6 separate regions of the Homo sapiens genome follow, and all the other regions are linked to region 1. The links come from fine-mapping of genetic effects on gene expression. A gene starts in region 1. Each other region holds a variant in brackets. All regions are shown on one strand. Distances are from middle to middle.

Evidence for each region.
Region 2: its variant is fine-mapped to the expression of APBA2 in whole blood (TOPMed, PIP above 0.99).
Region 3: its variant is fine-mapped to the expression of APBA2 in whole blood (TOPMed, PIP 0.98).
Region 4: its variant is fine-mapped to the expression of APBA2 in whole blood (TOPMed, PIP above 0.99).
Region 5: its variant is fine-mapped to the expression of APBA2 in whole blood (TOPMed, PIP 0.97).
Region 6: its variant is fine-mapped to the expression of APBA2 in whole blood (TOPMed, PIP above 0.99).

Annotation. Positions count from the first base shown.
Region 1 is chr15:28,883,749-28,889,129 of GRCh38, reverse strand. It overlaps APBA2 (amyloid beta precursor protein binding family A member 2), which reads right to left and starts at 3,156. Exons shown (of 15, transcript NM_001353788.2): 1 at 2,852-3,156.
Region 2 is chr15:28,964,453-28,969,833 of GRCh38, reverse strand. All of the region lies in intron 2 of APBA2 (amyloid beta precursor protein binding family A member 2), which reads right to left. Among named protein-coding and RNA genes, the nearest start is that of APBA2, 81 kb to the right of the region's middle. The variant G/A (reference allele first, on the strand shown) is at 2,239.
Region 3 is chr15:28,972,915-28,978,295 of GRCh38, reverse strand. The region is part of intron 2 of APBA2 (amyloid beta precursor protein binding family A member 2); the gene reads right to left. Among named protein-coding and RNA genes, the nearest start is that of APBA2, 90 kb to the right of the region's middle. The variant G/C (reference allele first, on the strand shown) is at 2,448.
Region 4 is chr15:28,929,064-28,934,444 of GRCh38, reverse strand. The region is part of intron 2 of APBA2 (amyloid beta precursor protein binding family A member 2); the gene reads right to left. Among named protein-coding and RNA genes, the nearest start is that of APBA2, 46 kb to the right of the region's middle. The variant C/T (reference allele first, on the strand shown) is at 2,749.
Region 5 is chr15:28,949,678-28,955,058 of GRCh38, reverse strand. All of the region lies in intron 2 of APBA2 (amyloid beta precursor protein binding family A member 2), which reads right to left. Among named protein-coding and RNA genes, the nearest start is that of APBA2, 66 kb to the right of the region's middle. RefSeq lists enhancers at 1-173, 174-675. The variant G/A (reference allele first, on the strand shown) is at 3,212.
Region 6 is chr15:29,007,118-29,012,498 of GRCh38, reverse strand. The region is part of intron 3 of APBA2 (amyloid beta precursor protein binding family A member 2); the gene reads right to left. Among named protein-coding and RNA genes, the nearest start is that of APBA2, 120 kb to the right of the region's middle. The variant C/T (reference allele first, on the strand shown) is at 2,317.

The DNA of each region.
Region 1 (5,381 bases):
CGGTGGGCGGCAGGGGGTTGGGGAGGAACTCTGGGAAACGAAGGAGCCAGAGAAGCCTCCCTGTGGGCACTCGGGCCAACCACCACCCAAGGGAACAAAGAGCACCCCCAGCCCCCGCTGGGCACACAGGCTGCCTCCTGGTGAGCAACCCTCTCAAACTTCACCCCCAGCCCCCACCGGGCACACAGGCTGCCTCCTGGTGAGCAACCATCTCAAACTTGACCTACATCGGGGAGGCCTGCCTGGTGGTCAGTGGCTACCTTACATCCTACCTGTGCCTCCACGTTCCCAGTCCTCACAGCCACCTGGCAAGGGTGAGGAACTGAGACTGCATGGGGAGGGCACGCAGCCTGTGAGTGATACAGCCAGGACCGCCCGCCACCCAGGCCCAGAGCTCTCTCCACTCTCCCCATTCTCTAAGGACCAGGCTGCAAGGCAGGGCATGTGATCTCTGCCGAAGACATTCGAGCCACCCAGTGATGTGTGCTGGGTCTCGATCCCCACCGACCGCCAGTCCTCTCCTCCCCTGGACAGTAAAGGTTTCTCCACGACTTCGGACCATGGTGTCACCTGAGGCCCACACCTGTTGAGTCACCGGGGCAGGTATGCGTGGCAGAGGACAGCCAGGAGCGCCGGAGAGGAGCTGAGGCCTCGAGGGGGTCTCTGAAGCCAGGCTCAACCCCCACTCTCCCCACTCCAACAGCCCTCACCACAGCCACCGCCGCCCAATCCAAACAAAGCCCAGCCTGATGCCAACCTCACCATCAACTGTTTTTCCTCTGACTTCCTCAGTTTTGTCTAGGAAAAATCAAGGTGTCTTATCACCCCTCTCAGCTTCCAGGGGTGTGATCAGTGTCTTTTACAATTATCTCTTATTTTTATCCAGTATTTCTTAGCTCAGTTGGCAAACTAGGTATTTATGCACCTCCATTTCACAATCCATCCCCACCAATTATGCCTGTAAAACTAACATTTTGTTGAAAAAAAGAGGTTAGAACTACTTAAAAAGGTTTTGTAAACAAGTTAACTAGCAGGCCACAACTTGAGTCTAGGGTGTCAGAGAAAACATGCAAGGTGGAAGAGAATGAGGAGCTGACGGTCACCAGTTTCACCTCCTTCCAGCGCCCACCCAACTCTCCTGCTCACACACACTCACACCCCGTGGGACTCAGCCTGCAGCTCCTCCCATCCCAGGAGCCCAGGAGACCGGCAGTAGGGAGGGGCACAGACCACACTTCCTAATAAATAAGAGGGAAGACTCGGTGCCCCATCGCTAATGCCATCACCCAGTCCCAGCCCAGCCATGGAGCCCACTCCAAGGGCCCCCCTGACAGTGCTGCTAGAGCCCACCGAGGGAAGGCTGCCGGCACACAGCCACAAGCTCCAGCTTTACCCACTCACGCCCTGGACATTGCCTGGAGCCCCAGCGTTCCAGGTCCGTGTCACCCTGGCCCTCCTGCCTGGCAGATCCTAAGCTCAGGAGACCCTCTCCAGCCCAGGCTGCAGGGGGAAGCAGCCCCCACGGTCACCCAGGAATCAGCACAGAGGGCAGGGCATCCTGGACGCCCTGGACTGGGAAACCCAGATCCTGTCCCCTGCGTAGTGGCGACACACAGGAGAAACCCCTGCCTCACCTCATTGGAGGGACCCTGACCCAGAGGCCTGAGAAAAAGCCACCTGCAGGCTCCTGGCACCTGCCAACCTGCACCTTAGGAAAACTCGTCCCACTTCAACCTGCAAAGCTCTCGGGTCATTATTTCTAAAATCACTGTCCTTTCTCAAAGAGGAAGGAAAACAGAAAAATAAAACAAAAACAAAAACAGAAAGAGGCACAGGAGGTTGAAGAGGCCAGAGGCAGTTTAGCCCAAAAACAGTGCCAGACGCAAGATGCCGAGTTCGGGGTGCCTCACCCTCCACATGCCCATTTAGGAGCTGACTGCACTCAACCACAGATTTATGTCTGGTGCCTGCCAGGTCGTATCTGAATAGATCTGAAAAATTAAGCCTTCCTTCTGCCAGTAAATACGAAGTTAAGACTAGCAGGCCCCTCTAAGGCTCTGCTCTCCACGGCGGTCCTCGGCAGGCGTCGGAGAAAGGAAGTTCGCCCCCTCCCCGCCTGGGCACACCGAGGCCCGCTGCCCGGCCCATGGCGCCCTGCTTGGGGACCGGGGGCCTCGATGTTCTCCTTCACCATCTGCAGCCAGATCTCCCGCCAGCAGCCTTGCCAGGCAGTGCCTGCCATGGGGAAGGGGCCAGGCCGAGGGGCAGGTCCGCGCCGTGCCCCCAACCGGGCACCTGCAGCCCAGGAGCAACGGGGTGTGGGGTTTTGAATTGATAAGTTTTCCCCTCTGGGCCTTATTATAAAGGGAAAGGGAAGGGGGCGAAGATCTGGGCTTGGGTTCTCTGGGGGCAGCGAACCCAGAGGCGACCCCAAACTCAGTAGTTGCCGCCCGGCACGGGGACTTGATGCCGGTGCCAAGCAGCCCGGCCAGCCCGGCAGGAGTCGAGCGGACAGCCCCGCCACACAGCGCCTCTTGTCCGCGCCGGGTGGCCCCTTGCCGCGGTGCCCCCCGCGCGGGATGCGAGAGCCGCCGCCTGGTCCCCGCCCCGCCCGCCCACCCGTCGTGGGAGGGGGAAGCGGCCGGTCAGAGAGGAGTGGGGCCGCCGGGCTGTACCCCCATATCCCAGCGGCGGCCGCCCCGCAGCCACGCTGAGTCGGGAGGGCAGCGCTCTGGAGCGCTCGGGCCGCAACCTCCGCGCCGCCCCCCACGCGTCCGGGTCCTCGCGGCGCCCCGGGCGGCCCCAGGCTGCCGCCGCCGGCAAGTCAGGCAGCCCAGGTTCCCCAGCTTACCTGGCCAGGGCGCTGGGCTGCCCGGGTACGCCGCCGTCCCCGCCCCGCTGCCGCCGGCTCAGTCCGCGAGGCCGAGCTCTTTGTGAGCCCGCGCCGAGCCGCACACCGCGACTGCTAATGAGCCCGGGAAGCTGAATAGCTTCCCGAATAGCGGCGGGCGCGCCCCGGACGCAGCGTACGGCACGCAGGGCCGCCTCTGCCGGGCGCACGCGGCGCGGCTGCGGGGCGCATCCCGCACCGGCCTGCGGCTGCCGGGCCTGCGCCCCCGCCCCGGCCGCTTCCGCCTCACCCGCGCCGGGCACACTGGGGCCGGAAAACGATTCCCGGCTAGATCGCGCGCCGTGAAGAGAGGGAAGACAAAGATGCGTCCGTGCCGGGCGTGCGCGAGGTCCTGCGCCCCCTGGCCCCGGCGCTGGGACAGTCTGCAGGGCAGGAGGGTGCACTCGGGACCCCGGGTCCCCCCGGGCCGGTCTCCGGGATCGGGGCTGGGACCCAGGCGCTGGAAGGCGCGGCGCCCCGAACGCCCCGGGCCCTGGGGAGCACACAGATTCCCGGGCGTGCCCCGGCCGTGCTGGCTGGGGAGCTGCAGGGGTCTGGTCCCGCAGGTAGAGCCAGTGAACGCGAGGCTCCGCAGGTAGAGCCGGTGAACGCGAGGCTCCGCACCTTGCCCCGGCCGCCGCGCCCTGCTTGCTCGGCCCCGCGCAGCTGTAATGGGGGACCCTAGAGCGAAGAACCCTCGAGCGAAGAACTCTCGGGGATCGCGGCCTCCGAAGGCCCCATCCGGCAGAGGAGGCCCCCTGCTGCCTCCCCACCGCAGCTCCCCTAGGCGCATGCTGGACTCCCAAGTCTTCCCTGGCGGTCCCCGGTAACCATCCCAGCACCCCGTTTCTGATACTCTGTGCTGCTTTAGCCCCCAGCCCCAGGGCCTCACTCCAGGGCTTTCTCTCCTTGCTGTCCTAAATGGAGAGAACCCTGACCTCCGCGGGGCCCTGGGGAGCGTACACTCCTAGACACTCACATGCATCCCCAGGGGAGCCAGTCTTCCGCCCCTACAGCGCGAGAAATGCCCTGGAGGCCCTCGAAGGTCGTGCTGGAGACTCCGGTGTCACCTTTGGCCCTCTGGCCCTTTCACTGAGTCCCAGGCAGATGTGATGAGCCATGGGAGATGCACAGGATGCCTTGTCTGGGCAGAGCGGGGGCTCAGGGGCCTCCCTCCCCCCAAATCGTGGTGATTTGCCCTCGTTTTCTTTTCTCCTGTGGCTGGATTAGGCGAAGCTGTGGCATGGGAAGTTCTGCCCAGGTCAGAAGGCACAGAAGGGCAGGGGGACTTGGGAGTGAGGACAGCGCATCTTCCTGCTGCCCTGAGGGCCCGAGCTGAGACCCTAAGGAGAAGGGGCTGGGGGAAGCCGAATCCTGAGATGGACTAGGGTTAGATACACTGTGGACTTGGCCTCTCCACACCCTGCCCCCACCAAACATTCACAGGTTTCCAGGGCCAGAGCCGCCAGTGGGGGCTGCTCCTGGTAGGGGAGCTTTGTAGCCACAGGGCCAAACAAAGGGGCAAAGGCCAGGGCAGGCCAACGAGGTTCCTGACCTATGCCCCTCCGTACTCAGATGAGCACACCTTCACTGTCTACTTTCCACCTGCATAGACATTCTGCTTACCTGGCTAACACAAAGTTCATCCAGCCTCCTGTGGCCCAGCCTTTCACCAATGCCAATAGTGGGAAGCAACAATTAAGAAGAAGTGATTCTGAGAAGATAAATGCAGTCATCTTCTTGCCTTACTGTTATGTGGTCACATCCCATAGGAAACCAGACACCTGTGCCTGAAGCTGATCCACACAACACCCCCCACCTCCTCAAACCCCCACCCCCATCTGTGTGAACGTGTGTGGGCCGGTAAGTTGCATGCTGTTCCTTCAACAGCCTCCCTTGAGATCTTCCCATGAGCAGGCTCTGGGCCAGTCACTGGAAATTAAACCCCATCGCAGCACCCGGGAGTGATAGTGGCTGAAGTCCTCAGTCCACAAGATGAAAGGTATAGGCCTAGGGCCAAGAACAGTGGCTCCCACCTATAATCCCAATACTTTGGGAAGCTGAAGCAGGAGGCTCGCTTGAGCCCAGGAGTTCAAGACTGCAGTGAGTTGTGATCGTGCCACTGCACTCCAGCCTTGGTGACAGAACAAGACCCTATCATTTTAAAAAATGAAATAAATTAAATAAATTTAAAAATAAAGGTACAGGCCTGCCCCCAGCCTCACTCAGGACTCCTAAATCTGGTGAGCTTGAGCCAACTGCCAGTATTCAGAGAATTTTTGAAGAATCATTAGGACAAACAGTTAGTGCATGTGAGGCTTAAAACCTAGATGACAGGTTGATAGGTGCAGCAGACCACCATGGCACACATATACCCATGTAACAAACCTACACGTTCTGTACTTGTATCTGGGAACTTAAAATTTTAAATTTAAAAAAAAAAAGTATCTTGGAATGGGAAAGGCCTTTCTAAGTATGCAACAAAATCAAA
Region 2 (5,381 bases), 81 kb before region 1:
GGGAATATTCCAGGAACCAGGAAATGATTCAGACCCGAATCTGCCACTCAGCCCCCGCACAGAATTTTGTCAGCTTTTGGCCCCTTCAATCCTCAGTCTCCTCACCAGTCCTGGCGGCAACAGGACCCTCGGGCAGCAAACCTCCCAGAGGCCACCTCCAACTCCGGACACCTTGCCAAAGCCCTTTCTGCTCGGCCGAGGGGTCGGGAACTGACAGTCACATGTGACACAGCAGGACACCTGCTGATCAGGGAGGGGCATGTTTCAAAACACTCTGTGTGTCCTTCTATCTTTACACTGAGAGCCCACACAGAATTCCAGGTTATCTCCTTTTTATTTGAAATGAAAGGTTAAGGCCCGGTGCAGTGGCTCACACCTGTAATCCCAGCACTTTGGGAGGCCAAGGTGGGCAGATTACCTGAGGTCAGGAGTTCGAGACCAGCCTGGCCTATAGGTGAAACCCCATCTCTACTAAAAACACAAAAATTAGCCAGGCTTGGTGGTGCATGCATGTAATCCCAGCTACTTGTGAGGCTGAGGCAGGAGAATCGCTTGAGCCCGCGAGACGGAGGTTGCAGTGAGCCGAGATTGTGCCACTGGATCCAGCCTGGCCGGCAGAGAGAGACTGTCTCAAAAATAAAAAATAAAAAAAAGAAAGAAAGAAAGAAAGAAAGAAAGAAAGAAAGAAAGAAAGAAAGAAAGAAAAAGAAATGAAAGGTAAGGTTTTTGTAGACAGGGTCTCCCTATGTTGCGCAGACTGATCTCTAACTCCTGAGCTCCGATGATCCTCCTGCCTTGACTTCCGAGAGTGCTGGCATTACAGGGGTGAGCCACTGTGGCTGACCCTTAAGACTTTTTGACAACCATGATTACCTCCAGAAAAAAAAAGAGTAGCCTATTTAAGACACTCAAGGATTTCCTGTCCAGCAAAGCGTTCAAGAATGAAGGGCAAGAGACAGCCGTGTTTATGTTTATATGGAGTCACCACATCTTCCCATCCTCCCTCTGCACGTGTCTGCTTCCGCATTTCCTCTTCTTGGAAGTACGCTGGGCATGCTGGATTAGGGCCTGCCCTAATGACCTCATTTTGCTTTGATAAGCTCTGTAAAGACCATTTCTCCAAATAAGGGCAGGTTCTGAGATGCTGGAGCTTAAGACTTCAACAAATGAATTTTGGGGAGACACAATTTTACCCAAAACAGGGGCATTGAGCATCAACAGCTGCCTGCTCACAAAAAGATGGGTGAACAGACATAGAGCACTTCCTCTAATCCTGCGAAAGAGACGGAACCAAGTCCAGCAAAGGTACTGGATCCAGCTGCCAATGTGCAGGAGAGAGAGGACAAAGGGACACGCTGAACTTCACCAGGAGTGCACCCATCCAAAATAAGAAGGGAGATGTTCCACAGGTCAAATGCCTCAAAGTCTTCCACACGTGTTTGTAAGGAAAAGACAGGGACAGATAGTATAGCAGTTCCCCCCAAAATTAAAAACATAAATTACCACATCATTCAGCAATCCCACTTCTGAGTATACACCCAAAAGAATGAAAAGCAGGGTCTATCTCCAAGAGATTATTTGCACACTCATGCTCATAGCAACATTATTCACAGTCCCCAAAACGTGGAAACAACCCAAGTGTCCATCATGGATGAATGGATAAACAAAATGTGGTCTACACATACGGTGGAGTATTATTCAGCCTTCACAGGCAAGGGAATTCTGACACTTACTACAACGTTGCGAGAACACTATGCTAAGGGAAAGAAGTCAGTCACGCACAAAAATATTGTAGGATTCCACTTACGTGAGGTACCTGGAAGAGTCAAATTCACAGCCAGAAAGTAGAATGGTGGTTGCCAGGGGGTGTGAAAAGAGGGGAATGGACAATTACTGCTTAATGAGTGCAGAGGTTAAATTTTGGGAAGATGAAATCATTCTGGAGATGAGTGGTGGTGATAGCTGGACAACAATGTCAATGTCCTTAACGTCACTGACCTGTACACCTAAACAATGCTTAAGATGATACATTTGTATGTATCTCTTGCCACAATTAAGAACTAAAAATTAAAATACATTTTAAAAATAAAGAAAGGGGCCGGGCGCGGAGGCTCACACCTATAATCCTAGCACTTTGGGAGGCCGAGGCGGGTGGATCATGAGGTTAGGAGATCGAGACCATCCTGGCTAACACGGTGAAACCCCATCTCTACTAAAAATACAAAAAATTAGCCGGGC[G/A]TGGTGGCAGGTGTCTGTAGTCCCAGCTACTTGGGAGGCTGAGGCAGGAGAATGGTGTGAACCCGGGAGGCGGAGCTTGCAGTGGGCCAAGATCGTGCCACTGCACTCCAGCCTAGGTGACAGAGCGAGACTCCATCTCAAAATAAATAAATAAATAAAAATAAAGGGATGGAGAGAGGAACCTGAAATTTATAAAACACTTGAAAAGACTATCAACTTCTAGTTCCAGAGCAAGATGATATAGACTGCTTTTCCTTCTCCCCTCTATCACATGCAAAAAGCCAGACTTACAATTTTATTACATTAGATTGTGGTTATGATTCAAAACTCTGTGAATACACTAAAAACCACTGAATTGTACAGTTTAAAGGTATGAGTTACATGGTATGTGAATTATGACTCAATAAATTTGCTATCAAAAAAAAGAAATGAAGGAGAAATTAAGATATTCTCAGGAGAAGAGAAGCTAAAGAATTTATTACTAGCAGACCAACCTTTAAAGAAGGGCTAAAGAAATGTCTTCAAACAGAAAAAGAGACTAACAGAAGAAGACTAGACTGTCCTTCACCTCATGAGGTTCTTTAATCATACTTTAAGTTGAAGCAAAAGTTATTATGTCATACGATAAGGTACTCAGTGGATACGGAGGAAATACTTAAGACAATTATATTTAAAAAGTAGTGAGGGTAAAGGGTCCAAAGTGGTAAAACTCTGACACCAGTAGGCTGACATAATATTTACAGCAATCATAAAGAACACTATCCAAAGCCGTACATTCAAACACAGTATAAATAAGGAAATGTGGGACTCTAAAAAATGTTTGTCACCATAGGAAGGCAAGGAAAAAGAAACAGAGGAATGAGAAAGAGAAGGAAAAAAATCATAAAATGCAGACTTAAACCCTAGCAAGTCAATAATCATTTTAAATATAAATGGTCTAACTACATCAAATAACAGACATTGGCAGAATGGATTTAAAAAATAACCTACAAGCTACCTACAAGAAACTCATTTCAAACATAACAACATGGGTAGACTGAAAGTAAAGGATGGGAAAAGACATGTCATGCCAACACTAATCATGAGAAAGCAAAAGTGGCTATATTAATATCCAGGCAGACTTCAGAGTAAAGAAACTAAATAAAGACAAGGAATAATATTACATAATAATAAAATGCCCAGCCTACCAAGAACATACAGAAATTCTAAATGCGTACCCCCCAGACCACAAAACACATACAGCAAAAACAAATCTTGCCAAGAGAAAAATCGACAAATTCACAATAATATTTGGGGATGTCAGTACCCACTCTGAGCAACTGACACAACTACTGGACAGAAGATCAGCAAAGATACAGAAGTGTGCAACACCATCCAACAAAAAGATCAAATTGACATTTATAGAAAATTCAACCCAAAAACTGCAGAATACACATTCTTTTCAATTGTCCATGGAACATACACTCAGATAGACCATATCCTGGGTCACAAAAAAAAGCCTTAATAAATTCAAAAAAATTAAAATCATGCAGAATATGTTGACCAAAATGGACTCCAACTAGAAATCAATGACAAAAAAACTACAGGAAAATCTCCAAATACTTGGAAATTAACCAACACACTTCTAACTAATCCATAGGTCAAAGGGGAAATCTCAAGGGAAATTTTAAACTATATAGAACTGCACTAAAATGACAACACGACATACCAAGTTGGTAGGATGCAGCTCAGACAGTGCTGAGAGGAAAACATATAGTTCAGTAAGGTTTCAGGGTACAAGATCAACATTCAAAAACTGATTGCATGTCTATACACTAATAACAAAGAAGTGGAAATCAAGACTGTTAAATGCAACACCATTTAAAGTTGCTCTAAAGATAACAAGAAGATACTTATGAATATATCTAACAAAATATGTACAGGATCTATATAAAATAAAAATTACAAAATGACAAGGAAGGAAATCAAAGACCTAAATACTGAAGAGACATACTCATGGACTGGAACGCTCAACATAGTTAAAAGGTCGATTCTGCCTAAATTGACTGACAGGCTTAACAAAAGTCCTGTCAAACTTTGTAAGGTATTTTGTAGATGCAAACAAACTTATTCTAAAATTTATTAGAAAGAGAAAAGCCTGAGAATAGCCAAATAACTTTGAAAAAGGAGAATAAAATTGGGGAAATCACCCTGCCTGATATTAAGGCTTCCTACAGAGATATAGTAATCAAGACAGTGTGATATAGGCAAAGGGAGAGACACAGAGATCAAATGGAATGGAGTAGAGAGCCCAGGAAAAATGATCCCTACAAATATGCCCAACTGATTTGTCACAAGGAGCAAAAGTAATTCCATGAAGGAGGGACAGCCTTTTCAATTAATGGCGCTGGAGTATTTGCACATCTATAGGCAAAAAAAGAAAAAAGAAATTTGACATAAATTTCATACCTTATACAAAAACTAACGCAAAATGAATCAAGGACTTAAATATAAAACTATAAGACATGTAGAAAAAAAAAATCAAAGGAAAGAGCTTTGGGACCTTAATGATTAGGCAAAGAGTTCCTAGACATACACCAAACACAATATCCATAAAAGGAAAAAATTTGATAAAACTTTGACCTCCTCAAAATTAAAAACTTTCATTCTGTCAAGGGTCAAGTTAAGATAACAGAAAAAAAAATTATACTCTGGGAGAAATTATTTGCAAATCACGTACCTAACAAAGGACTTGTATCTAGAATATATAAACAGCCCTTAAAACTCAACAATTAAAAAAAAAATCTAATTAGAAAATGAGCAAAAGTGGGCCAGGTGCGGTGGCTCATGCCTGTAATCCCAGCACTTTCGGAGGCCGAGGTGGGCTGATCACCTGAGGTCAGGAGTTCAAGACCAGCCTGGCCAACATGGTGAAACCCCATCTCTACTAAAAATACAAAAATTAGCCAGGCGTGGTGGCAGGCGCCTGTAATCCCAGCTACTCGGGAGGCTGAGGCAGGAGAATCACTTGAATCTAGGAGGCGGAGGTTGCAGTGAGCCAAGTTCGTGCCACTGCACTACAGCCTGGAAGACAAGAGCAAGACTTCGTCTCAAAAAAAAAAAAAAAATGAGCAAAAGTGATGAACAGATATTTCACCCGTGAA
Region 3 (5,381 bases), 89 kb before region 1:
TTGCAGGGCCAGGCTCACGGATCATGCGGCTTATGGCTTCTGCACTGCAACATGGTAACAGCAAACTGGGAAGCGACATGAATGAGCTGCTGGGTGTCCAGACCTTCCTTTGGCAAACGCCCAAGAGGGACAGGGCCCTCATCTTGTAGTGAGAGGAAAGCTGGAAACAGAGAGAGGGAGAATGGAAACTAATCCATCCGAGCCACGGTACACCAGTCTTTTGCCTAAGCCCTCACCACACCCCTTTGAGAGATTGTTTGGTTTTCCCCATGTTTGGCTTTGGACAATAGATGCAGCCTATCTGCACACACAGCCCCTGAGTGGCAGAGCTGGGATTTGAACCGAGGCCTGCCTGAGTCCACAGCCCAAGCTGTTCACTACCTTTCAACTGAGGATGGGCGCAGATAGGTATGTGGGTCCAACTGCTCCACACCCGACTGTATGGGAGAGACACAACAGCCAGTCAGTAGGGTTCTCACTCCTGTGAGAACCTCAGCATTTCTGTACTAGGCAATGAGGTACCTTCTGGAAAGGCTGTGTGCCTGTCACATACGAGAGCAGGAAGGTAGGCCCAGACATGTACACATTGGGAGGGTGGCTCACTTTCCGCAAATTCGGAATGCTTCAGGAGGTTTATGTGCTGGACAGAGGTCACCCAGAGGAACTGGAAGCAGCACCAGGCACCCTAGCAGCTGAGCATGACTCATGTGTTCATCTTACTGGCAGGATGGCATGGGGCTGAATCACAGCCAATGGAATCAGGAAATTCCCATCTCAGCCAACCCCAGTCATGAGAAACCTCCTTCTAAAATGCTGTTAGAGGCCAGGAACAAGGCTGGGGGATGACTATTCATTCACTTAGGAAAATCTTGGGGGTGGGGTTCTGCTAAGGGCTGAATGTGCTCCTCCCAAATTCAGAGGTTGAAGCCTAATCCTTAATGTGATGCTATTATAATGTGGGGCCTTTGGGAAGAAATTAGGCCCTCATGAATGGGAATGAGAAGAAAAGTCACGAGAGAGATGCTCTCTCTCTCCCCGATGTGAGAGCACAGGAAGAAGGCAGCCATCTGCAAACCAAGCAGAGGGCCCTCACCAGGAATCACCAGCCCCTTGACGTTAGACTTCCCAGCCTTCAGAACTGTGAGGAATGAATGTGTGTTCTCTAAACTAATCTATGATATTTTTGTTATAGCAGCCTGAACTAAGGCTCACATACTCACAAGAAAGAAGAAAAATGGTAGTGTTGAAGGAAGCCAACTGATGAGGTAAGGTTTATTTCCTCATTGTGAATAGACTTTAAATGTTAAGGAAATTTAATTAGTCACTTGAAATCTGGCCACTAGTAATGCACTGGAACCAGAAGGTGTCACAGGTAAGTTTTAACAATACCATTGAGGAACATATCACCTCAGTCTTATATTAATTGCTCTCCAAAAGAGAAAAGGATGAGATGCTGAATGTTATGGGTCTAATATAATCTCCACACTAAAACCAATGAAAGGCAGAATAAGAAAGGTAAATTATAGGCCAAACTCATTTATAAACAGGTGAAAAAACATCCTAAATAAAGTATTAGCCAAGTGAACCCAGCAATTTTTAAGAGACATATCATGATGAAATACAGGTTTATCCCAGGCATGTCAACTTGGTGTAATATTAGAAAAGCTATTGTCGCAATCACATAATTCATCACATTAACAGATCATCTCAATTGATGCCCAAAAACCATTTCATAAAGTTCAACATGCATTCACAATTAAAGGGAGAAAAAACTCCTAGCAAATTAGGACCAGAAGGAGACTTCCTTAACAAAGTGAGGATCTACCACAAGTCCACAGCAAACTCCACACCTCATGGTGGACCATTAGAGATGGCCCTACAAGAAGGAATAAGACAAGAATTTGCAGTATAACTGCTTCTGCTTAACACTGTTCTGTCACTCCCAACCACAGAAGTAAGAAAACAAAAAGAAATTAAAGGATGAAGATTGCAATGGATGAATGAAAGCCAACTGTCATTACATGCAGGAGACATACTGTCCATAGAGAAAAGCCCCAAGCTGCTCTTCAGACTGTTAAGCAAGGTTGCTGGATACCAGGTCAAAACACAAACTCAACAAAGGTCATTTCCAGAGGGCTGCCACTGGGACAGTAGCCAAAATTTCATACCTGGGAATCAATTTAATGTAAAAATGGAAGACCTCTATAGAAACATATCTGTTACTTTATTGAAAGACATAAAAGAGGACCTATTAATTTAAGATCTCCATATGCCATGAGCATGTTTGGATTTGGAGTATTGTCTTCCAGGTAAATTCAGGAAGGAGGCATGGCTGAGTCAGGGTCTATGCAGGTGCACCAAGTCCCAAGGCATCCTGTTTCCTCCAGGGGTGGAGCAATCTGAATGGCTGCTCCACAGCCTCGCCAATAGAGGGCGCCATCAAACTT[G/C]TATTGTTTTGTTTTGAGTTTTTTCCTCTCTGCCAATATGGCCCATGAGAAATGGTATCTTGTTATAATCTATATTTTGAAGGAATTAGCTTTGTGATATAAGATGCAAATATTTTCTACTGGTTTATTACCTGGCTTTTTCACTTTGCTTATGGTGTCCCTCCCCCATCATGCGAAAGCAGTTTTGTTTTGTTTTTTTCCTAATGCAACCAAATTTCTCAATCTTTTTTACATTGCTTTTGGATTTTGAATCATAATTTTCCCTACCCACAGGTTATTTTAAAATTTACCCATGTTTTCTTGTGGTAGTTTTTCTGGTAACTACCTATTTAGAGACATTTGAAATGTATGCTTGTAGATGATGAAAGATATCGACAAAATTTTATCTTTTTCCAAATGGCTATCCAGTTGTCTCAAAACCATTTTTAAAGGGTTCTCTCTAATACTGTTTTACTTAGGCATTTTACATCAATATTCCTAAGTGAGATTGGTGTGTGGTTTTCTCATTGAATAATCTTAAGGTTTCTTTTTCTATGTTCTAGAATAATTTAAGTAGCATTGAGATATCTGTTCTTTGAAGATTTGATAGAATTCTCCTGTGAAAATATAGATTTGAATTTTTTTCCAGTAGGAATTTTTTTTTAAAACTTTCTGTGTCTACTGGGGTCAATCTGAATAAATTATATTTTCCTAAAGAAGTTCCCTTTCTATCCAGGTCTTCACACTTACTTGCAAAGCACTATACAAAGTAAGCTTTTAATGATTTTTTTAAATATGCTCTGTTCTGTTAATGTCATTTCTTATTCTGTGTTGTTTGGGGTCTCTCTCTCTCCCCTTCATGATTAGCTTAGACAGAGGTTTGTCCACTTGATTCTTTTTCTAGGATGTAGTATTTTGTGTATTTATCAGTTTCATTTTTTTCTCATTCCTAAAACTCATGAATTTCCAATCTTACTCTTATTTTTTGTCATTCTACTCTAAGTTTATTTGGCTATTTTTATCTATCATTTTTAGTTAGATGATAAATCCATTAATTCGTTTGGTTTCATTTCTGAGGTTATAACCACAGCTTTATGTGTATTCCACAGAGTGATATATTTTAATTATCGTCAAATTCAAAAATTATGCACTTGGTTTGTGTATTTCCTTTCACCTAAAAACTTATTTAATAGAGTTTAATCTTGTAACTCTTCAAATTGAAGGGCCTTTTTGGTTTTTAATCTTATGATTAATTTTTAGTTTTATTGCATTGTGAGCACAGAATGTTGTTTGTATTATTTCTGTTACGGAACTCATTGAGGTTGTCTTTGTAAGCTAATATATGTCAACTTTCCTAAGTGTTCCAAGTAGTCTCGAAACAAAGTTGTATTCCCTATTATCACAGCACAAAGTCTGGTACATTTGGAGGCGTATGTTTTGGTCCCCTTCACATGTCTCAGGCTGAGCAAGGCAGTCACAATGTCCTGGAACTGCGTGTCCCTCATGTCTCCCCACCGCCCCTGTGGTTTCCGCATCGTAGAGGTTCTGGTGATGTTATGTGAAGCAGACATAACCACACCTAGTGTATCTTCTCTGCAAATTGCAGCCTTTAGCATTGACAGCGGCCCTCTTTGTTTCCATTAATGCTTTTGGCCTGATACTAGCTTGGCTGCAGTCAGGATTAAAACTCCCAAGCTCTTTTTCTCTCTTCATTGCTATACACCCTCCTGTCATTTTCAGCCTTCCTGGATCACTGTGTTTTGGATATGACTTCTTTATACAGCATAGAGTTGGGTGCCACTATGTGAACCAATCTGAAAATCAGTCTTGCCTTTTAATAAATGGGTTAAATCCACTCTAATTTACTGATGCGGCTGCTAGGTTTGGTCTCAGTTCTATTCTTTAGTGTTATATTGACCGTGTGTATTTCACTATATGGTTTGTTTGCTTCTTTAAAAGTTGTTTTGTTTTGTTTTTGCATTTCTTTGGGTATTTAAGGTCTATATTTTTGTTTCAGTGGTCATTCTTGTATACCAAACAATGTTACCACTTTCCTACCTGCAGGGCAATCAATGAGCTGATTCTCTGTTCCTCTTTTGCTCTTCCTACTCCAACTATTATTTTTATTCATTATTTCTATTTTGTCAGAATATATAACATTTATAGCCATTCCTCCATACTTATCCCTACCTTTCTTTCGGTCATACATATACAATTTTTTTTAAACATTTTAAAATACTTGTTTAAGTGTAAAAATACTATCAGTGCCTTCGCCAAAGTTTCCCACATCATCTTTTCATTGGATGAAGCCTGTCCCCTGCTATGTGGCATACATAATGTGGCTAATTTTTAACACCTTCATCCTCTATGTGACAACAGTGTTTTCAGTAATTATCACATAATAACCAGTAATAATCACTATTTCCTTAACTGGATCTGTAATTTTAAAAACCATGGACAATTTTAAAAGATGAATTTCAGTCCTAATGGTACAGCTCATATTCAGTAAAATATTTCATGTGTCAACTACAAGTTGCACCAATCAAACAAAAATATCCAATCTCATCATCTGTGCTCTTACTCTTCAAATTTTACACACCAATAAAAACCTCTAGTGTTCACATAGAATGACAGAATTGAAGAAATCCAAGTTCTGTTTCTTTGTCTTTACCTATTGTGATATCACTGGTTATTCCTAATCTGCTATCCAAACAGAGGAATACACAGGGTCACAGGAGTCCGGACCTCAATGGAGTTTGCATGATTCTGGATTGCTACAAACTTCCTCTCAAAATAAACACATGTGCCTCAGTCTGCAGATGTCAGGGGCTGATCGTATACTTGGGAGTTCTCCAAATTAAATGCCATGTAGAATATAATGTTTATTAAAGCATAAGTAATGCAAATATGCTAATTTGAGGTTTACACATAGCATTAAAATGCAATTGTAATAGG
Region 4 (5,381 bases), 45 kb before region 1:
GAAAGACCAGCGTTGAGCTGCCAGACCTTGACAACAAGGTCTACAGACCACACAAGGACAGCTGGACTCCAGGCAGATGGGCACCTACTTAGCCCAATCAGAACCCACACTGAGCCCTGGCACTCACCTGCAGACAGGAGTCCACAGCTGCTTGTCCTGCCTCCCACCCCAAACCATTCCCCACACTCACAATCATACACAGCAAGCTCCACTGAGTCCCTCCTGGCTCCAAAGCCTGCAGTGGCACCGGCCCCAGGACATAGGACACAGTCCAAGCTCTTCACTCTGTTCCCAAGGCTGTGGAGGGCTGGCTGGCCTGTGAGTCCTGCTCTCCTCCACCCCCGTCTCTTCTCCCCAGCCCCCTCTTCACAGGTTTAGAGACCAGGCGGAAGGAGCTGCCCACTCCATGCCTTGTTTTCCCGTGTGCAAGCTGCTCTCTCTGCCTGGAACCACCCCCACCTCCAGCCCATGCCCCCCTTTCTCCTGGGCTGCCTCTACTCCTGCAGCCTCGGCACACAGTCACTTCTTCCTGGAACTTCCCCAGGCCCTCTGCTCCGCCCATGTGGGCAGCCCCTCCTTGCGCTCCAGCATCAAACCCCAGATAGTGGACTCTTTGAGGGGAGGAGCTGTGCCTGTCATTATTCTACCCTCAGTCCCTGCTGGGCCTGGCACAAGGCAGAGGGGATAGAGGTGCTCTGGAGAAAACTGCTCCACAGGCCAAGCACGCAACCTGTCGGGCTCCAGCAGGCCCTGACTTTGGACCAATAAAACCTCAGGTCGAGGACTTCGCTCCTAACTCAATGATAAGGTCTGAAAATCCGAGCCAGTGTGGGCTTGCCATTGCTCCTACAACTGTCTTTACTAGCAGACTGTGAGCCCCACACTCTCTTTCAAAGAGCAGGACATTTGTTTGAAGGGAGTCTTATTCCATTCAGGGTACTCTCACAAAATACCATAAACTGGGTAGATTATACATGACAGAAAGTGGCTTGTCTCAGTTCAGGAGGCTGGGAAGTCCAAGACCAGAGAGCCAGCAGATTCCGTGCCTGGTGAGTACCTGCGTGATGGCTCAGAGACGGCAGCTTCTCACTCTGTCCTCACATGGTGGAGGGCGGGAGGCTCTCTCTGCAGCCTCTTTTAAAACGGCATTGATCCCATTATGAGGGCTTCACCATCAGGACCTGATCACCCACTGCTATAGTTGGAATGTGCCCCCCCAAAGTTCATGTGTTGGAAACCTAATCCCCGATGCAACAATGTTGAGAAGTGAGACCTTTAAGAGGTGATTAGGTCCTGAAAGCTCTACCCTCATGAATGTATTAATGCCATTATCGCGAGAGTGGGTTAGTGACTGAGGAGCAGGTTCCTAATAAAACAATGAGTTTGGCCCCCTTCCCTCTCTCGCTCACTATATGATGCCTTCCACCATGTTAGGACGCAGCAAGAAGGCCCTCAGCAGATGCAACCCTCAACCTTGGACTTCCCAGCCCCTAGAACTCTGAGCCAAATAATGTTCTGTTCATTATAAATTACCCAATCTGTGGTATTCTGTTTCAGCAGCAGAATACAGATTAAGACACCTCCATAAGGCCCCATCTCCTTGGGAATGTGAATTCCAATGTCTCCCTCCCAAAGGTCCCATCACTTTGGGGATAAGAATTCCAAAATATGGATTTGGTGGAACACAAGCATCAGATCACAGCAAAGAACCCCTCATTTTCATTCCCTCAGGAGCCACGATGGGACCTGGCTTTAAACAATCCACTATCACAATAGGCAGCACTGACCACTAAGGCCACACAGGTCACTTCTGCTGGCGAGATGGGACCAACCCCCTATGGGGCCGTCCACCATCTCCACTGTCAGGGAACCCTGGCTGTCCTGCCACAGGCTTTGCAGGAGGCTAAGCCACTGTGGACGTTGCTTTTACTGCCCTGGTGGATAAAAAGCATGGCAGAAGCCCATGGGTGTCTCTGAGACTGCAGCACTAGGCCCACCTGCATTGTCACATCCTGCATGTGCTCAGAGGAGAGGGTCTCTAAACACCATGGGGCTGTGCTCCAGGGAGGGCTGCCTTCTGGGTTTTAAACCCTACCCCACTGCAAGGGATGGGTACCTCATGGCACTGCACTACAGTACAGAAGCCAGCACCCCATGCTGTGGACTGCAGGGGTGCTCCAGGTGCCCCCCTCAGCTCTCCAGGGTTCAGAAAAACCTGCTCCCTGGTGAATGTGAACCTCTCTTCTGCCAGCATGAGGGTCTGCTCCACCCTGTCACCCTCCTACCCCTCATCTCATTGGCTGGCTCCCTTCCCCTCCCAAGGACATCTTACCAAAGCAGAGACAGTGATCCTGACACCAGGTCGGTCTAGGCAACTGTGGCCTGTGTGGCCGTATCCCCTGGGATGCAGCAGCACAGAAAGGAGGGCTAGACTCAGCTGCAGCCATGCCCAGACCCAGTTGGGAGGGCTGTGTGCTGTAGATCCTGTCCTGGATGCCCCTCTGCCAGGCCAAGGCTCACACGCAGGGACCTTTCTCCACTTGAACGTCTGTGCATTGTAATATAACTTCCCAAAATATTACTCTGCAATTATTTCCAAAGACTTAAATGGGATCTCCAAATACGTACAATTAAGACTAAAATTGTAATTTTAAATTACTGATAATTTGAATAAACATAAAACTTTCCTATCTCTAAGCCAAATGCAGACAATAACATCCCAATTAACCCTTAGGTACTGCCAAACTC[C/T]GGAAAACAACCACTTTGGACTCTCAGAGGGAGAAACAACTCCTGAACTACATGGAGCCTGGCAACAGACTCTGGAAATAGTCATGATCTTCCACCTGTGCAAAGCCAGATGCTTCCCCGGCTGGACCCTATGGAGCAGCGCTGCCTTGCTAAAAGGGCAGTGGATGTTTGGGCCCACGGTGGCAACAGCACCAGGTCCCAGTGAACAGGGGAGAAGGACGCAAGGTCATCCCTCATCAGTCCCACTTTGCTAGGGGATGGGGGCACAGGAGGCAGTGGCGTGAGACTCCCTCTGAGTCTCAGCGGCTTTAGTTAGCTCTGGAACCTCCTTGTGGCCTCCCATTCCCAGGCCCCCGCTAAGATCCAGGAGCTACAGGGGGACCGACTGGAGTAGTCTCTCACCAGAGGCCACCAGCAGCGGGATGAGATGTTCATGTAAGCTGTCCTGCTGCCCTGAGGGCCAGGAGAGGTGACAAGCACGCCTGCATCCCACATCAACAGATGCTCCCAGCTCCCCACCCCAGCATGGTTTCTGGCCTACGGGGTACCAGAAGAGGAGCAGGGACTTTCCGTGAAGGGCTGTGCCTCATGGAGGGGGCTGGGGAGGTGGCTTCACCATGATTCCCAAACAGGGCTTCTAGCAGACCCCTAGGATAGCTGTACCGAGTCCCCAATGTCTGCGGACGCGGCACCCGAGTTTCCTGAGAATCCAGAGGCAGGAGGCCATGACCAGAGCTGCCTCACAGGGGAAGAGGAGGAGCTGCCCAAGGAGGAGCTGCCTGCTGCTCCCACCAGTGTGGGGCCAGCCTGGGGCCGCCTTGAAGGAACAGCCCAGGAGCACTCCCGAGGGGCATGGTGGAGGATAGGGAGAGCAGTCAAGGGCATCAGCCCAGCAAGGCCTCCCACAGGTCGCAGGGAAGAGCTGCAAGTTCCCAGCAGGGTCATCTCTAAGAAACCTACCCGAGGGTCACTGGAGACAGGAAGTCCAAGTGAAACATCTGCTGGACCCCAGAAGTGCCACCCAGCCCACTTGTGGAGAGAATGCCCTCTCCCCAGACACTCCATCCCTCGGAACACTCCCTGGCCAGCAAAAACAGAGGCAAAGAAAGAAAGAAGGAGACACACAGCCCTCCCTCCCCAGCCGGCTCCAAGACAGGTCAGGCTCCAGCCGGGTGGGAGAAGCTCCAAAGAGTCTATAATTACTCCTTTTCATGACTGACCAACAATGTTCCTGGGACTGAAAGTAACCAAAGAACCTTCTATTGCCTTAGAACGACAGAAAGCTCCAGGGCCTGCCTGGAATGTTCATTTGAGCAGAAAAAGAGCTCACCCCCAGGGCAGGCTCAGAGGGACCACGAGGGTGAAGATGCTCATGTCTATCCTGCTCCCATCGTGGAGAGCTCAGCGCCCACCCAGATGGACCTTATGGTCCTTATGACTTCTGAGGGGAAGTCAAGCCTGAAACTGGGCCTTCTTCTGGAAACAGCCCTAGCAGCAGCAGGGACCACCACAATGCAGCCCTGCCAGCCCATTCCCACCTATACTGGCGGGGGCTGGAGGGTTGGGGGGCTGCACTGTCAGGGAGGGACGGGAGACATAGCTTTTGCCCCCCTTCCACCTCCCCAACTCAGCTCCTTCCACCTTTTCCTACCTGTTTTTATAGAGATGCGAATGGGCCAGTTTTACCCTCTAGGTAAATAACTGCTCAACAGCTTTGAGGATGGGCAGAAGCAACCTTTCCTTTAGTAGGTGGGTGGCAGATCTACACTTCCTCATACAAGAACTGTGGTCTTTAGGAATACATATTCTCCCTCCCCTTGACGGAATTAGGAAAGTAATACTTTTTACACTTGAAATTAAGAGCAGAACAGATGGTGATGGTTTAGAAATCTGTTCATAAGAACTGATGCTGGCAGTGGGACCATCAACAAGACATGGATAATGGGGGCAAATTGGTTTATTGCAATGTGCACCCAAGTCCCACTACTGCAATCCGAAAAGCCAAATACTGAGAATGGGGGACAGGTATGGACAGAAGGTTTAGCCACAGTAAGAGGGCAAAACAACTAGCAACGCGGAAGTGACCACAGAAAAACCCCCTTCTTCTTGTGTGTCGCCTGGGCCAACGCTGTTGCCCCAGGGAAGCCTGGGCGCCAGCACCATACAAAGTGCCATGCTAAAGACAGCCCATCAGCTCCCAGTGATAGGCGGGAAGTGCTACACCCTTGGATCTGAGTGGTCACTCCTCTATTTGTTGAGGACATCTGGGAGCCTCCCATTGGCAGCATCACTCATGTGTGTCGCAAATTCACTGAAACCACAAGGCACGAGAAATCCTACGGATTAGCAGCCACCCATAGCCAGGTGGCTTGGCCTCGTTATTTATCCCTTTCGGTGTATTCATTCAGAATGTGCCAGGCTGTCTTGTGGGTGCAAGGACGCAAGGGAACACTGACACTCCAGTTCCCTGGAGCTTATGTCCTAATTAGGAAGACAGATGACAACTGAGTAAACCATCAAATAACAAACATGATTCCCGGTTAGGGTAACAGGAAAATCAAAGCAGGGGAAGGATTGGAGTTTCCGCTCCAACACGTAAAGAACTTGGAAGTCATCACTCCCATCCTCATGAC
Region 5 (5,381 bases), 66 kb before region 1:
TCGGAAAGGCCAGGGGACTGGGTGAACCGTGAGCAATGGGGCTGGGGGTGGGCCGGCTATGCCTCTGGCCCTGCTCTCTGCATAGGAAACCAACCCTACCAGTCGGTGTCCACATGCACATGGCCCTGAGGGCCAGAGTGAGGGACCCTCCTGGACAGAAATCCACAGAGCACACACATGGTCACCAAGCAGTCAGGTGTTAGAAAGGTTCCCAGGTTTGGAGGATGCCAAAGCAGATGGGGAAAGAAATTCCCTGATTGTCCTCCAGGTGTGCCCAGGACTAGCAGGAGGCAGGTGAGAGGCCAGAGTGCAGCATGGCAGGAGGCCCTCACTCCTAGATGTCAACTGTGAATTTGCTGCAGCCTGACCGTGAGCGCCGTCTTCAAGAAGATGTCAGGACTGTGAGCCCAGGGCTGAAGAAGGCAGACCAAGCCCCCAACCCCCACAGGCTTCCTGTCTGGAGTGGCACAGACAACAATAAACAAATAAGCTACAGAATTAATGTGGGGGTGCCTGTGCATGGTGGGGGGTTACCAGCTCAGGGATGTGGGCCAGTACCAAAGTCCGCAGAAGCCACCTGCAGAAGGGAACGTTGGAACCAACACGAAGAAGGTGATAAAGTTATTAGCCAGGCAGGATTTTGCAGGATAGAGTTTTAAGAAATAAAGTCAGTTGAGGAGGGGCTTCCAGCATTTACTCTTAATGGGATGGCCAGGGAACGGAGAGCTCTGGTCGGAGGAGCATTCTCATTTAAGTTTGTATGCAATAAACCAGCTGCTGAGCAGACACAGACTTGGGTGGGAAGGTATGCAGTCAGTGTGGAAACAGGAACCATCAGGAAACTGGCACAGCAATCTAGCAAGGAGATGACAGGCTCTCATCGCACGGCAGCGGTGCCGGTGTGACCATGGGCAGCTTACGGAACAGATTCCATGTGGGGTTTAAGAGAGACAGGAGTCAAGGTTGGCTCCAAGTCTATGGTCTAGGTGTCCGGAAGCATGGAGCTGCCATTTACTGAGATGTGGAGATTGGGGTTGAGATGGCCAGGGACAGCTTGGTGCCTGTTGTGTGGGGACGTCAATTAGAACTCTAAGGGAAAGCGCTGGGTGAGCAACAGGGTGTACAGTCTGGAGGTCAGAAGAGAAATCAGAGCTAAAAGATAAATGTGAGCTCCTTGTGCCACAAGTCGGAATGAGGTCAACCATGGTGGGAGTGTGGACCGAGCGGAGAAGAGGGGCATGGACTGACCGCAGGGACACTCTGACACTCACGGGTCAGTAAGGGGACTGAGCAAAGTCCAGTGAAGCAGGAAGAAAATCCCAAGCACAGAGTGCCCCACAAGCCAAGGGAAGAAGGTGTTTCCTAGAGGGGACGACTGTGGCAAACACTGCTGGTCAGTCACATGGGAAGGGACCGAGAGCTGACCACTGGATCTGGAGACTTGGAGTCTTACAGATCTTGATCTCTAAGTGATGGGGTCAAAAGTGTCAGGAGAGGTGTCTGTGGAAGGGGCAAAAGTCCGACTGGAGCGGGTATAAGAGAGAACGGGAAGGGAGGAAATGGAGAAAGCCACTGCAGACAACTCTTTCCAGAAGTTCTACAGCAAAACAAAGCACAGAAATAGGCCAGCAGCAGGGGGTGGGGCGGGGGGAGTGGGAGCAAGAGACTTCTGTTCTCTTTCCTATGATGGGAGCGGAAGGCAGCTGTTTCAATGCTGAGTGTGAAGGCCAAGATCCCATGGACCACAGGCAATGCTGCTGGAGGGCAGCGTGAAGCTGAGAGGCAGCATCTGGTGCTAAAATAAGGAGGGGCTGACTTTTGAGCCAACTATACATTATTTCCAACTCGGGAGGAGAGGAGGATTCTGCACAAACGCTGGTAGGGAGTGATGAGGGGGTGGGAGTCTCAACCAGCCATATGGGTCCTCATTTCATCAAAACTCCTGGAGCCTGCAAAACCCAGATGGAGACTGGGATTCCAGGCTAAGGGAGACACCAGGACTTCCAGGTCCCAGGGAAGCAACAGGGTCACAGAGTAACCAACAAGACCCGCCTGTTCTTCCTTTTCCTGATGAATCTTGACATTTATGTCATACAAAGAGCATGGACTAGGGCTCTGAAGGTACAAATGTGAGTCGATCTCCATTAGCTGCTTGAAATTAGCAAAAATCACATCATTGCTCTACATTATCAGTTTCTCTATCTATACAATGGAGATAGTGACTCTTGCTTTTCTCAGGATTGCTAAGAAGATAAATACATGTAAAATGTCTCAGTTAATGAAAATTCAAGTTGTAGGAACACAGTAAGGTATCATTTCTACAAAGTTTGAAAATATCATAACAATGGGATATATCATTTAGGCATACATGCAGTGTAAAAATAAAACATGCCTCCAAAAAACAAACAGTAAATTCAATTTACTGGGTTTCACAGGGGTGGCTGGGGAGGCATGCTCATGGAAGGCTGAATCATATTTGTACATGTCTTAAACTGGATAGCAGGTACCCCAGATACTCCTTTTTTCTTAAACAGAGTCTTGGTCTGTTAGCCAGGATGGAATGCAGTGGTATAATCATGGCTCACTGCAGCCTCAACTTCCCAGGCTCAAGTGATCCTCTTGCCTCTGCCTCCCACGGAGGTGGGACCACTGGTGCGCGTCACCACACCTGGCTTTTTTTTTTAATTTTTTTGTAGAGACAAGGTCACTCTATGCTACCCAGACTGTTCTTGAACTCCTGGGCTCAAGCAATCCTCCTGCCTCAGGCTCTCAAAGTCATTCCTCTTATTATTCTCTGTATTTGTGTATACTTGGAAAATATTCTTTAAGCCTTCCAAGTCTTTTTTGTTGTTGCTGCTCCTGTCTACACAGTAAGTTGTCCAAGTTTTCCTTTCTACTATGTGACACGTGGTCATGGTTCCCATGAGTGATCAGAAGGCTAGGTCCAGGGCTTCGCCGCCAGATGGGGTCGTGCATTCAAAAAAAAGCTATGGGACACAAAAATTAGCCAGGCGTGGTGGTGCATGCCTATAATCCCAGCTACTCAGGAGGCTGAGGCAAGAGAATCCCTTGAACCCATGAGGTGGAGATTACAGTGAGACAAGATTGTGCCATTCACTCCAGCTTGAGCAACAGAGGGAGACTCTGTCTTAAAAAAAAAAAAAAAAAAAAAAAAAAGGCTGAGTGCAGTGGGCTCACGCCTGTAATCCCA[G/A]CACTTTGGGAGGCCAAGGCGGATGGATCATGAGGTCAAGAGATCAAGACCATCCTGGCCAACATGGTGAAACTCTGTCTACTAAAAGTACAAAAATTAGCTGGGTGTGGTGGCACACGCCTGTAGTCCCAGCTACTAGGGAGGCTGAGGCGGGAAAGTTGCTTGAATTTGGGAGGCGGAGGTTGCAGTGAGTGGAGATCGTGCCACTGCACTCCAGCCTGGCAACAGAGCAAGGCTTTGTCTCAAAAAATAAAAAAATAAAAAAAAACTATGGGAGATACATATGTATACACAGATTAGCATACATGCATATTTCCTAGCTCTGTCTGCTGAGAGGGCCTGGAAGCAATGTACCTCGGTGACAAGAAGAACCCTGTCTCCAGACCTTGGTTTCTAGATACCATTCTTCAATAAAATAAGGCAGGGATCCTTGCAGAAATAGCTGAGTCCAGGACTGGGTAGGAAAAATTCAAGATGAGCCTGAGTATCTTGTGCCAGAAAGAGGTACAGTTTTCTTTGGGTATCTGTAAGGGATTGGTTATCTAGGCCCCCCTGTAGATACCATAATCCTCAATGCTCAAGTCCCTTCTATAAAATGGTGTAGAATCTGCATATAACCTATGCACATTCTTCAATATATTTTAAATCCTTTCTAGATTATTTATAATACCTAGTACAATGTAAATGCTATATAAATCGTTGTTATACTGTATTGTTTAAGGAATGATGACAAGACAAAAAGTCTGTTCAGTAGAGATGCAACCATCTATTTTTCTCCCAGATATTTCCCATCTAAGGTTGGTTGAATCCACAGATGCAGAACTCACGGATATGGCCAACTGACTGTACTCAAAAAAACAAAAAGGTAGGGATCTCTCTAAGGGACATGGGATGCCACCTGAAAGAGCTTCATATAGTCAAAGCTGGGACAGTTTGAGCAATAAAATAAATAACACAGCACTGGATTATAAAGCAAGGTATAAATTATATATCCACAAATCCATATTGATGTAAATGTTTGAATAAATAAATGGGGGAGAATAGATAAGTCCCCCATACAGAAATATTCCAAATAATTTATACAGATATCCCCACCCCCCATGAAGGAGTGGAGTGTAACTCCACATTCCTTAAGCATGGGCTCTGCACATCGACCTCCTTCCAGGGAGGACTATGGAAAGAAGGTGGGGTAATCTTTTTTTGCTTTCTTTTTTTTTTTTTGAGACAGAATCTCACTCTGTCGCCTAGGGTGGAGTGCAGTGGCGTGATCTCAGCTCACTGCAAGCTCTGCCTCCTGGGTTCACGCCATTCTCCTGCCTCAGTCTCCCAAGTAGCTGGGACTACAGGTGCCCACCACCACGCCTGGCTAATTTTTTGTATTTTTAATAGAGACGGGGTTTCACCATGTTAGCCAAGATGGTCTCGATCTCCTGACCTCATGATCCACCCACTCGGCCTCCCAAAGTGCTGGGATTACAGGCATGAGCCACCGCACCCCGCTGAAGGTGGGGTAATCTTACAGTGAGCAACTGGCACATGCTACCTCAGCCAGCTGATCGGGGTCAACATCGATAGTTATGAGTCATATTGATATCATGCAACATTGATGTATGTTGAAAATGGTGCTTCGCTTCTGTGGTTTTCCTCCCCCAAACCCATAACTCCAGTCTAACCATGAGAAGAACAGCAGATAAACCCAAATCGAAGGATATTCACAAAGACCTGTACTCTTGAAAACTATCAAGGTCATTAAAAACAAGGAAAGCTGAAAAACTGTCACAGACCAGAGGAGGCTAAGGAGACGCAAGGACTATAGGTAACGTAGTGGCCTGGACAGGCTCCTGGGACAGAAAAAAAACATTAAGCAAAAACTAAGGAAATTGGAATAAACTGCAGAGTTTAGTTCATAGCAATGGACCCACGTTGGTTCCTCAGTTATGCCAAATGCACCGTGTGATGTAAGATGTTAACGAGAGAGAAGACTGGAGGAAGCAAGCATGGGAATTCTCTGCAGTCTTTGCAACTTTTTTATAACTTTAAAGCTGTTCTAGAATTAAAAGTTTACTAACAACAACAAGAGGCCGGGTGTGGTAACTCACGCCTGAAATCCCAGCACTTTGGGAGGTGGAGGCATGAGGATCACTTGAGCCCAGGAGTTCGAGAACAGTCT
Region 6 (5,381 bases), 120 kb before region 1:
AACACTCAGACGATTGAGGGTAACATCAGCAGTGATAAATTATGTAGCCCTGATTTGATAGGATAAGAATGGCACTTTTTCAGATGGGATCTTCTGCCCCAAAGCCCATAGCCCCTATTGAACCATGAGAAAAATGCCAAGCACACTCAAATTTAAAGATATTCTATAGAATACCTGACCACTACTCTTCAAAATTGTCAAGGTCATCAGAAACAAGGAAAGTCAGAGGAACTGTCACAGTCTAAAAGAACCTAAAGCGACATAATAACTGAACTCAAAGCAGTCTCCTAATAGAATCCTGGAACAGCAAAAGGACATTTGATAAAAACTAAGAAAATGTGAATGAAGTATGGACTTCAGTTAATAATAATGCATTGGCACTGGTTCATTAATTGTAACAAATGTACCATACTAATGTGAGATGTTAACAACAGGGAAAAGTAGGTACAGGATGTATGGGAACTCTCTACTATCTTCGCAACATCTCTGTGAATCTAAAACTATTCTAAAGCAGTAAGTTAAAAAAGAAAGTTTATATACCTATATTGGTAATTAGACAAACTAGATTTTACGAAAAGCAGCATTCTTATGGAAAAGAAAGAATTCATAATTAAAAAGGGCAACCTACTAGGAATAAATTCTAAATTTATATGTATCTAGTTAAATGCACTCAAAATTTATAAAGGGAGAATTGACAGGACTATAATAAGACAAATCTAAAGTATTAGACATTATGAAATTTATGTCTATTAGACACAGACATTATGAGCAGCTGGATAATTTAACACACTTCTTTCAGTAAATGATATAACAAAGAAGTAAAAATAAGAATGGAAATATAAGATTTGAACACCACAATTACCCATTTTTCCTCATGAATATATCGAAAGTACTGAACTGAGGAACTACACACAAGGGCACATGGGATAGTCTGTCAAAATTAATCATATGGTGGACAAGTCTAAAGCCAGTGTAAACAAATTTCAAAATGTTAACATTGTAAATAATCTGTTCCTGACTACGGGGTAAGCAAGCTAGAAATAAATAACAAAAATATAACCAGAAAATATGGAGGCATTTGGAAATCAACTACTTTAAAATAACCCACATTTCAAAGGAGAAATTTTAAAAAGTGAACAGATTTTGAACTAATTAATAATAAAAATACAACGTATCCAAAAATGGTGCTGGACAGCCAGCCATGTTCACAGCAGCACTATTCATCATGGCCAAGGAATAAAAGCAACCCAATGTCTATCGATGGATGATGGATAAACAAAATGTGGTCTATTCATACCACATAATATTATTCAGCCTTAAAAAGGGAGAAAATCTTATCACACAACCCAGCACAGATGAACCTTGAGGACACTGTACTAAGCAAAATAAGCCAGTCACAAAAAGACAGAAACTGTAGGATTCCACTTGAGGTACCTAGAGTAGTCGGAAAGTAGAATGGTGGCTCCCAGAGGCTGGGGCAAGGAGAATGAGAAGTTGCTGTTTAATGGGTATAGATGTTCAGATTCGCAAGATGAAAAAGTTCTAGAGATCTGCTTCACAACATTATGAATTTACTTAACACTACCGAACTGTACACTTAAAAATGGTTAAGATGGTAAATTTTATGCTGTGTTTTTTTACTACAATTTTTAAAAATAGTGGATTACAGCTAAAGCAGGCTTAATAGGCTATTTATAACCCTAAAATCATATATTAGAAAACAAGAATGGCTGGAAAAAATAAATATGCTGTTGTTTTCATGTTCTTAGGTATGCATAGATTTCCTAAACAGGGCACAAAAAGCATTAACCTTAAAGGAAAAGATTGATAATCTGGGCCTTCTCATCAAAAGATACCACTGAACGTGAGAAAGTGTGAGAAAATATTTGTAATATGTACATCTAGCAAAGGTCTCAGGTACTAACTATATAAAGAACTCCCGGCCGGGTGTGGTGGCTCGCACCTGTAATCCCAGCACTTTGGGAGGCCGAGTTGGGCGGATCACGAGGTCAGGAGATCGAGACTATCCTGGCTAACACGGTGAAACCCCGTCTCTACTAAAAAATACAAAAAATTAGCCGGGCTGGTGGCGGGCGCCTGTAGTCCTACCTACTTGGGAGGCTGAGGCAGGAGAAGGGCGTGAACCCACGAGGCGAAGCTTACAGTGAGCTGAGATCGCACCACTGCACTCAAGCCTGGGCGACAGAGCGAGACTCCATCTCATAAAACAAAAAAAGAACTCCTACAAAGCACTAAGAAAGAAAATGCAACAGAAAAATGAGCAAAAACTTGCACAAAAACTTCAAGAGAAGGTTT[C/T]GAAAAGCACAAGACAAGTATTCGAAAGAGATATTCAACAGTCTTCAGTGAACTGAAAATCATACCAGAGGATCCCACCATGCATCCACTAAAAATCAAATTAAAATGACTAACACCACCAGTTATGAGCAAGGATGTGGAGCAAATGAAACTCCTATTTGCAGGTGGGAGTGTAATTGGGTACAATCACGTCAGAAAAAGGACTGGCAGTGTTCACTAAAATAGAAACATACCCAGACCCTGTGACCTACCCATTCCAATCCTGGATGTACCCTCAATAGAAATGCAATCATGTGTACAACAAATGTGTAACAGTGTTCCCAGCAGCAATCATGACCCAAAACTAGAAAAGATGCAAATGTCCATCAAACATAGAATGGATGAATTATTTGTATTTTTACAATGCTCTGTAACAGTGAGTCAATGAACTACTGTCACACCACCTGTGAGTGACTCTCACAAACATAATGTTGCATAAAATAAGCTGACATAAAACAGTATATATTGTAGAAATTCATTTATTTAAAAAAAAATTCAAACATTTGCAAAAATAACATTTGGTGCTAGGATTCTGATTACCTTTAGGTGGTGGTGGTAGTGGTCGGGGGTGGGTTATGGCTGGGAGAGGACCCTAGGGGAGATTCTTGGGTTGTGGTGATGTTTTGTTTCCTAGTCTGGATGGTAGTTTCATGGATGTGTTCACTTTGAAAATATTCATGGTAATAAACACTTAGGATTTTTGTACTTTTCTGTTTATATTACACTTGAATTAAGAAGCTTATTTTAAAATAAGTGGCTTATCATTTGCACACTGTTCAATTCAAAACAGACTTCAAAAAGGTGACTGTCCAAAGCTTCCTCCCACTTTAGTCTCCATGAACAACTCCAGGTGCGCGTTCTGAGGGTGTGGATTGTTACAGTGAGGGGAGGGGGTGCAATGTGCTATGAGACTAGAAAAGGCACCATATCTTGGGCAGGGGCTCGTCTTTTTAGAGTCTTTCCTCAGATTCTGCTTTGAACCCCAAGCTCTGCCTGCTGTCATGGTACTGTAAACACTGCCCTAACTTCTGTGAGTCAGATTTTCTGATGCCTTCTCAGTAGGATACTTTGGTGCACTAGGGGATCCAAGGCTCTTGGGGAGGATCCCCATGTTAGTATCACATTCCATAGTCCAGCATCTGGGAGGAAGAGCCTGCCGGCTTCTCTCCCCTGCACATACACACCCTCTGTCCTGGTTAACTCACACTAGAGAACAGCTTCCCACCTGGCCATACTGAAAGAACAGAAACATAGTTTCAATTACCTTTGTCAGAGAGAACAGGAGAGGTGAGGGAATGGAAACCAACTCCCAGAGAATGGTGGGAAGGCAGACACTCAGGGGCACGAATGACTGTGGGTAGAATTCATATGTATGGAGTGTCCCTGTGACTGGCTCTGTGCTTTTATTTTTTTATTTGTTTTTTGTTGTTGTTCTGAGATGGGATCTCGCTCTGTTACCTAGGCTGGAATGCAGTGATATGATCACAGCTCACTGCAGCCTCGAACTTCCAGGCTCAAAGGACCCTCCCACTTCAGCCTCCTGAGTAGCTAGGACACCTAGCTAATCTGTTATTTTAATTCTATGTAGAGATGGGAGTCTCCCAGTGTTGCCCAGGCTGGTCTCGAACTCCTGGACTCAAGTGATCCTGCCATCTATGCTTTCAATAACAACATTCAGTGTGTGTTTTACTAGATATGGTGTTGAGTCCTTTCCGTTGTAAGAAAAAAAAATTGTGGTAAAATACACGTAACATAAATTTACCATTGGAAGCCTTTTTAAGAATACAGCTTAGTGACACTAAGTACATTCACACTGCTGTGCTACCATCATGACCATCCATCTCCAGAACTCTTTTCACTTTGTAAAACTGAACCTCTGTCCTAATTAAACACTAACCCCCTTCCCTCTCCTTCTAGCCCCTGGCAACCACCATTCTACTTTCTGTCTCCATGAATTTGACTATTCTGAGTACCTCATGTCAGTGGAACCACACAGGATCTGTGCTATTCTATCTGGCTTCCTTCATTTAGCATAATGACCTCAAGGTTCAAGGTTCATCCATGTTATAGCATGTGTCAGAATTTCCTTCCTTTTCAAGGCAAAATAATATTCCATTCTATGTATACACCACATTTTGTTGATCCATTCATCTGCCAATGGACTCCTGGGTTGCTTCCACCCCTTGACTATTGTGAATCATGCTGCATGAACATGAATGTACAGATATTTCCTTGAGCCCCTGCTTTTACTTCCCTTGGGCATATGCCCAGAAGTGAAACCACGCCTAGATTCCACGGCAATTCTATTTTCAATTTTTTGAGGAACTGTCATACTGTTTTCCGACGGGCTGCACCATTTACATTCCCACCTAAAGTGCACAAGGGTTCCAATTCTGCCACATCCTCACAGACACTTATTTTCTGTTTTGTTTTGTTTTGTAATAGCCGGCCTAATAGATATGAGGTGGTATCTTGTGATTTCGACTTGCAATTCTCTAACGATTTGTGATGCTGAGCATGTTTTTCTGTGTTTACTGGCCATGTGTCTATCTTCTGTGGAGAAATGTTTATTCAAGCCCTTTGTTCGTTTGTTAATCAGGTGGCTTCTTTTTATGTTAAATTCTAAGAATTCTTCACACATTCTGGCTATTAACCCTTTATCAGATGTATGAATTACAAAGATTTCCGTCCATTCCTTGGGTTGCCTTTTCACTGCTGACTGTGTCCTTTGAGGAAGTTTTTATATTAGATGAAGTCCAACTTACCTATCTTTTCCTGTTGCTGCCTGTGCCTTTGGTGTCACATCCAAGAAGTCACTACCAAATCCAATGTCATGAAGTTGTGCACCTGTTTTCTTCTGAGTTTTATGGTCTCAGCTCTTATGTTCAGGTCTTTGATCTATTTTGAGTTGATTTTTGTATTCTCTTGTGTTGTTTTTATATTGTTTTCAGTTTTTCCAACACCATTTGAAGAAACTATCCTTTCCCCACTGAATGACCTTGAAATCCTTGTCAAAAAATCATTTG